2 linked regions of the Homo sapiens genome follow. The protein of the gene in region 1 purifies or fractionates together with the protein of each later gene. This does not show direct contact. Each region holds a gene or a part of one and is shown on either strand. Other genes may lie near its edges. The genes, in order: ZCCHC14 and ENPEP.

Region 1 (3,822 bases):
CATGAATACAGCATTGAGAGGAAGGGCTTGAAGAAGCAGTGGCAGTCGGGCAAGAACTCAGTTGAATTAAAGCAGGAAGAATATGAGGCTCTGGCACTTCTGGCTTTTTTCCTCTAATACACATTTCTCTTGATTAAAAGTTAAATTTTTTTCTTTCAATTCGTCAGCAGGAATGCCATTTTAATGTTGATAAGACCACTTGTTTGCCTTTTAGGTACCTGGCCTCATTACCTTCTCACGTGTTGAAAAATGACCATGTCAGGAGGTTTCTCAGCACTTCCTCTCCCCCACAGCAGCTTCAGAGTCCAAGTGAGTTTGTAAAATATGGTTAAATATAAATTAAAAAAAAAAAAAACAGCTGGGCGCAGTGGCTCATGCTTGTAATCCCAGCACTTTGGGAGGCTGAGGCGGGCGGATCACCTGAGGTTGGGAGTTCAAGACCAGCCTGACCAACATGGAAAAACCCTGTCTCTACTAAAAATACAAAATTAGGCTGGGCGCAGTGGCTCACGCCTATAATCCCAATACTTTGGGAGGCTGAGGCGGGTGGATCACGAGGTCAGGAGTTCAAGACCAGCCCGGCCAATATGGTGAAACCCCGTGTCTACTAAAAATACAAAAAAATTAGCCAGGCGTGGTGATGCATGCCTGCAGTCCCCGCTACTTGGGAGGCTGAGGCAGAAGAATCACTTGAACCCGGGAGGCGGTGGTTGCAGTGAGCCGAGATTGCACCACTGCACTCCAGCATGGTTGACAGAGCAAGTCTCCATCTCCAAAATAAAATAAAAATACAAAATTAGCCGGGCGTGGTGGCAGGCTCCTGTAATCCCAGCTACTCAGTAGGCTGAGGCAGGAGAATCACTTGAACCCGGGAGGCGGTGGTTGCAGTGAGCCGAGATTGCCCCACTGCACTCCAGCATGGTTGACAGAGCAAGACTCCATCTCCAAAATAAAATAAAAATATAAAATTAGCCGGGCGTGGTGGCAGTCGCCTGTAGTCCCAGCTACTCGGGAGGCTGAGGCAGGAGAATCACTTGAACCCGGGAGGCAGAGGTTGCAGTGAGCCGAGATCGCACCATTGCTCTCCAGCCTGGGCAACAAGAGCAAAACACCGTCTCAAAAAATAATAAAATAAAACAAATATTTTCATTGTCTGTAAATTTTTATGGTATTTATTTTTAAATTTATAGGTCCTGGCAATCCCTCCCTTTCTAAAGTAGGTACCGTGATGGGCGTGTCTGGAAGGTGAGAAATCTTCTATGTAACCAGCACAGTTCAGATAAGCATTTTACAATGTTTACTTTGAGTTCTGTGTAAAGTTGTTCCAAGAATTAAGTCATGCTCAAGTTGAGTCTTGGATGATATTGAGAAGAATTGAGTAGAGATGATTGAATTTACGATTTCCAAAAAAAGAGTTCTCTAAGCCACTGGAATCAGAATTCCCAGGGACTCCTCCCCAGTGCAAGGTCCTGGGCCCCATCATAGACGTAGAAAGTCAGAATTTCCGAGAATCTGGCTGTGAGAAACCTGCTCCCAGAAGCATAGGGTCGTGCTCCTGAGGAGCGTCCTCTGTCCGCACGGGCCCTGGGTAGCTGCAGTCGTATGCCGGCAACACAGAGGCTCCCATCTTTGCTGACAGTGAGGTGGGCTGTCACAGATCAGTGCACACGCACCCCCATAGGGAGTCTCGTGGAGATGTTGTCTGGGCGCGAGGTTTCGAGGCGTAGACTGGCATCCTCCTGGTGTCGGGGTAGGGTAAGCGCCCAGTCAGCAGGTGTGACTTTGCAGTTAAGGAGCAAGGCCAGAGTGGAGTGCCGGTCACACCTTCCAGCCTTCTGCGTTTTACTTTTCTAGAAAAATTGTATTTGAACATTAAAGATTTAATAGTCTATTTTGATGTATGATTTATCAGTGTCATTCTGTGACTTAGAAGTAACAGAAATACCTATCGGAGTAGCATGTTTTTAAAAAATACAAGTAACAGAAACTTGGCAGCTAAAGCAGAAGTCTGGTGGGGACAGAGACGTACACATACATAATACACATACGTACACACAAGTAGACGCATACTCCGAAGCACGGGCAGAGGCATGTGTGTGTATATGCACAGCCGCCTGTATGCACACGTGTGCACAGACATGCATTACAGAAATCTTAGCTGCAGAAAGGTGGTTGGGGAGGGAGGGCAGTCATAGCACAGCAGTGTTGGCAGTTCAGGGTGGCCTGTGACAACAGGGCCGGCCAAGAGGCAGAGGCTGGCACAGAAAGGCCTGGAAGTGAGGTCTGTGGTGGAGTCTGTGGTTGTGGAAGCCACAGTCTCTCTGTGTCCCTCCTGCCCCTGTCCCACAGGCCTGTGTGTGGAGTGGCTGGTATCCCGTCCTCGCAGAGCGGAGCCCAGCACCACGGGCAGCACCCGGCCGGCTCCGCCGCCCCCTTGCCTCACTGCTCCCATGCGGGCAGCGCGGGCTCAGCCCTGGCCTACCGGACCCAGATGGACACATCACCTGCCATCCTCATGCCTTCCAGTCTGCAGACCCCTCAGACCCAGGAGCAGAATGGGATTCTAGACTGGCTTAGGAAACTGCGTTTGCACAAGTATTACCCCGTCTTTAAGCAGCTCTCCATGGAGAAGGTATGTCGGTTTTCTGGCTGGCCGTACAGAATTGCTAGATTGTTTACTCAAGACCTCCCTGGGGGCATTGAGTTTCCAAACCAACACAAGGTGGATGAAGTACGGAGGCCGAGGCGCAGCGCCTGTTCTTAAGGGAGACGGTGGGCTTTGCGGAGGCCGCCTGCAGCTGCAGCCAGCCACAAACAGGACATGTTGTAAACAAACAGCTTGTCTAGGGGCTTCAAGACCTTCACAAACTAGATGCTCTGCGTGACGGGAGGGACAGTCCGTCCCCAGAGCCCTGCTGTGGACAGAAATCCTGAGCTCTGGCACGGTGCCCCTTTTAGACATTTCTCGGCGTAGCTGGCGCAGACACTGCGGCGGGCCAGATCTAGAGGAATGGGTGCATTTTACATCTTCCAAGCAGTCGTACCTAGAGAATTCTTATGAGGAACATTTTTTCACTGTTAAAAAAATTCAGAAATTTCTTAAGTCTTGATGTCAGTGATAAAACTAGATTAAACCCATACAAGGTATTTGAGCTCTGGACTCCCTCTGCTGGGCAAACCGGCTTGGTGGCTTTTATCTATGTAAAAATTTCATTTCTCGAAAAATCTACAATTGAACCTAGAAATCAAGCTTTTACTACATAGTTAAATCCAAATTGTAAGTATATTTGTAATACCCTTTGTTTAGGATTTGTGAATGTTTTTTTCTTTTTTTGAGATGGAGAGTCTTGCACTGCCACCTGGGCTGGAGTGCAATGGTATGGTCTCGGCTCCCTGCAACCTCTGCCTCCCGGGTTCAAGCGATTCTCCTGCCTCAGCCTCCTGAATAGCTGGGATTACAGGTGCCCACCAGCATACCTGGCTAATATTTTGTATTTTTAGTAGAATCAGGGTTTCCCTATGTTGGCCAGGCTAGTCTCGAACTCCTGACTCATGATCTGCCCACCTCGGTCTCCCAAAGTGCTGGGATTACAGGCATGAGCCACCGCGCCTGGCCAAGGATTTGTGAATCTTAAAAAGCAGAGATTTTACTAACCTTGTTCATAATTAGTTTTAAATGTTTTATTCTTACGTTTGCATTGAGATGGCCTAAATCACAAATCATGTTAGGAAATAACATGAAAATTAGAGGCTGGTGTGTTTGCGTAGCACCAGCCTACACAATGGAGTAGCCACACAACCATTCAGCGTGGATGGCATCTG
Region 2 (3,822 bases), on another chromosome or scaffold:
AGGGACACACTACCTGTTAATAGTCATTACATGCACATTTGGGAGCTTTTAAGCTTACAAGATAGAAAATAATGTTCTATTTCATAAAGGAGAAAATGGACTCAGATATTATGTAACTTGCTCAAGGTCATATTCCCTGTCATGCATCTAAGAAATGATGTGTTCAGGATTTGAACTTCAATCTAACTAATCTAACTACTAAATTTATGTTATCTCTTCATCACACTGTTTCTGCAATCTGTCTGAAATAAAGTAAGTCGTTCACAAATGAGACTCCGACATTTTTTCAAAGGGTTAGTGCTATAGATACTTTCTGGAACACAGAGTTAACATTTTCTATGCCACCTGTTTTTTTTTTTTTTTTCCTGCCTTGATAATGTGTTTTGAGTGACTCTGTCAAGGATATCCCCAGATTGTGATGATCAGCTGCCCTTCTAGGTACTGGGGCAAGGTGTAGTCAGTGGAAGTCAGCTGGCTCCACCCTATCCTCACAGTGGAATTCCCCGCTCACCACTGTACTTGCCATCTGACTCGGGACCATTATCATAGTCCAAAGGCTTCCATCTGCTTTGCATGAGGAAAAGAGAGATTTCAAGTTTATGTGTTTAGGACTCACCATTTGCCAGTCTGTTTCTGCATGGTTTACTCCCAGAAACTCAAAGAAAGAAGCAAATCCTTCATTTAGCCACAAGTCTTCCCACCAGTCCATGGTCACAATATTTCCAAACCACTGAAATTATAAGCAATAAAGAGATAATTACATTCTTATGGGTATGGTAGAGAGGCCTAGAAAATGTCAAAACATTTATTTGTCCGTGCCAATGTTGTCACTGTGACAGAAGTGGCAGGCATTGTACTTAACATTTATTTCCTGCTTTATTCTGATTATTTAAATGATATTAAATTGTCTTTAGTTTATTGCCTTTATTTAGTTATTACTGGGGTACATAAATTTATATGAAGGCCTCGTGCATATTTCCTAAAGGCAAAACAATGTGGTTCAAAGTCTCTTTATGGCTAAATGTTTATTAGTACCAAGAAAGATTTTCATGCAAGTTTTTCTGAGTTGGCTATTTTTTATTTGCTAAGTCATAAATAATTTGAATTATTCCTGTGGTCTTAAGCCACTTTAAAAAAACAAGCTGATTCAGTGCTAAGATTCTGTACCTGATGCACAAGTTCATGGGCAACCACAGTGGCCACCCTCTGTTGGTTTGATGAGGCTGATTCCTTAGGGTCATAAAGCAGGTTCGTTTCTCTGTACGTGATGAGTCCCCAGTTCTCCATGGCACCAGTGCCAAAATCTGGAATAGCGATTTTATCTATAGAAGAAGAAAGAGTCCAGTGAGAAATACATTCTTTCCATTTGTTCATAGCTTTTCTTACCAAATTAAGTTATTTGGATGAATGTTTTTTAAAAGCCTAAAAATAATTTCTTAGAGTAAAGAACTGTAATCATGTGTGCGAACATTTCAGTCCTAATGCACTCAAAGTTTCCATAGAGCATTCCCTGCTGGCTCCAGATATCAATGCTTTGTTTTTGTTTTAAAGAAGGACACTAATGGCAATGCCTCTATAATTTTATGTCTTTTGTTTCTCTCTGTATTTCATTTTTATTAGCTACATGTGTTTTAGGGGATAAGCCGTGAGGAAAAAGAGAAGTTTTCAAATTAGTATTTAGAAGTTCTGAGCTTCCAAGTGTATAGATACAGTTTTCCATCCAAAGACACAGATTATTCAAGAATATAAAACTCCATTTTTCTCTAATTCTATAAAATATTGATAGAAATACCAATCTAATAGCTTATCATCCGCTTTTATGTATTAAATTGGTTGGAGAAACATGGAGTTGACTATATTCTCTCTAGATTCCCTTACAGTTCTAAAATGTTGGACAGGAGTTTCTATAGTCTTACACATAATATCTGACAGGAGGAGGCAGTGTTGATCAGTTCTATGTTAAATCCCAAGACAGAAAATGCTCAGATGATTAGTGGCCAAAATACAGCTTCCCCAGTTAATGAACTGTAAACAGAATGTAATTTCTTTATTATTATGTATAATTTAAATGAGGCACAGAAATGAAAACAAATTGATTTTTCACTTAACATATAAGAGAAGGCCCTTTCTTTCTGGTTAAAATAAATATTCTTTCTTTTTTTTTGAGACAGAGTCTCGCTCTGTTGCCCAAACTGGAGGGCAGTGGTGCGATCTCGGCTCACTGCAAGCTCTGCCTCCTGGGTTCACGCCATTCTCCAGCCTCGGCCTCCTGAGTAGCTGGGACTACAGGCGCCCGCCACCGCGCCTGGCTAATTTTTTGAATTTTTAGTAGAGACGGGGATTCACCGTGTTAGCCAGGATGGTCTCCATCTCCTGACCTCGTGATCCACCCGCCTCGGCCTCCCAAAGTGCTGGGATTACAGGCGTGAGCCACCGCACCCAGCCAAAATAAATATTCTTAGAGCTTTTTATAAAAGAATGAAGAGGGATGTATCTTAAGTAGAGGTCAAGATTACAATAGTAGTTTCCTTTTCATGTTATCTCATTTTTAGGTTTGGTTATTTTATCACAAGACAGTCATTTCAAAAGTAGAGAAGTATCTCCCCCAAGGGCCAATATTTTTCATAATGTTGTGGAGTGCAGTTTGCACTTAATCCTTGAACAAAAGGAATTTTTTGCAATCTCATTTTTTTTTTTTTTTTTTTGGTCAGTACTGGCATTGTAACTAACTAATTCTTGTATATTTAACTCTTTGGAGTCTAATAAATGCAGAAGTCACCTCTAAGGAGTCTAAGATATAATTAATTCTGAGAGGGTTGAAAATGCACATAAAACAGAATAAAGGAGTTGGGGAGAGGGAGAAAGAAAGAGAGGAGAAGAGAGTAATAAATTTGTGAGATTTCCACTTCTCAGGTTATCCTGGGTGCTACAACTGAGATAAAAGGCAAAGGATCTTTAAATTCATGTGTACAATATTTTATTAAATATTATTCTGATATTTTTAAATTGAGATGAGGTCTTCTGTCACCTAGACTGCAGTGACACAATCATGGCTCACTGCAGCCTCAACCTCCTGGGCTCAAGTGATCCTCCCACCTCAGCCTCCTGAGTAGCTGAGACTACAGGTGTGTGCCACAACACCTGGCTAATTTTTGTATTTCTTGTAGCGATGGGGTTTCACCATGTTGCCAGGCTGGTCTTGAACCTCTGGGCTCAAGCGATCCGCCCGCCTGGGCCTCCCAAAATGTTGGGATTACAGGCGTGAGCCACTGCACCTGGCCCAATATTCTGATTTTGATGAAAACTTGTTTCTTTTTCCAGCTCCTTCTCTAACATTTGTTAAGCAATCAAAAAATAGAATTGTATCCATTGAAGAGACATGCAGCATCTACAAGCTTGCTCTGAGCCACAGCCATTCCCATGCAGAGAATTTTGCATTCCCCTTGTGTGCATTGATAAGTTATTAAAGTAAAGGCAGAAACAGATACAGGGAGGCCAACTGTTGGCTAATTTGTTTTCTTACTGCCTTCATTTCATCCCTACAAACATCTATATGGGTGTTATATTTAAAGTCTTTGTTAATAGCTCTCGAGCTTATTAATAAAGCATTTCCACTATTGATAGAAATGTCATATGCACACCATTTTGGTTGTAGCCCCACTTTTGCTTTATGAAGAATGCATGTCTCCCTCTGTATTAGAAAAAATTATTGCTGGAAGGAGCACCAGTATTTCATTAAACTGCTGGGGAATCTAGAATTTGCCTTGTACAACAATGGAAAGACTGGAAGCACATGGGGCTCTTACAACATCATTTATCCCT

What was found.
Region 2: the proteins of ZCCHC14 (region 1) and ENPEP purify together in Homo sapiens (affinity purification with mass spectrometry; one large-scale study listed by BioGRID and IntAct). This does not show direct contact.

What each region holds. Positions count from the first base shown.
Region 1 is NC_000016.10:87,416,270-87,420,091, reverse strand, and holds part of ZCCHC14 (zinc finger CCHC domain-containing protein 14), read left to right. Parts: intron 1-214; coding exon 215-309; intron 310-1,190; coding exon 1,191-1,245; intron 1,246-2,349; coding exon 2,350-2,632; intron 2,633-3,822.
Region 2 is NC_000004.12:110,507,153-110,510,974, reverse strand, and holds part of ENPEP (glutamyl aminopeptidase), read right to left. Parts: intron 1,323-3,822; coding exon 1,168-1,322; intron 731-1,167; coding exon 617-730; intron 1-616. UniProt on the Homo sapiens protein: Regulates central hypertension through its calcium-modulated preference to cleave N-terminal acidic residues from peptides such as angiotensin II.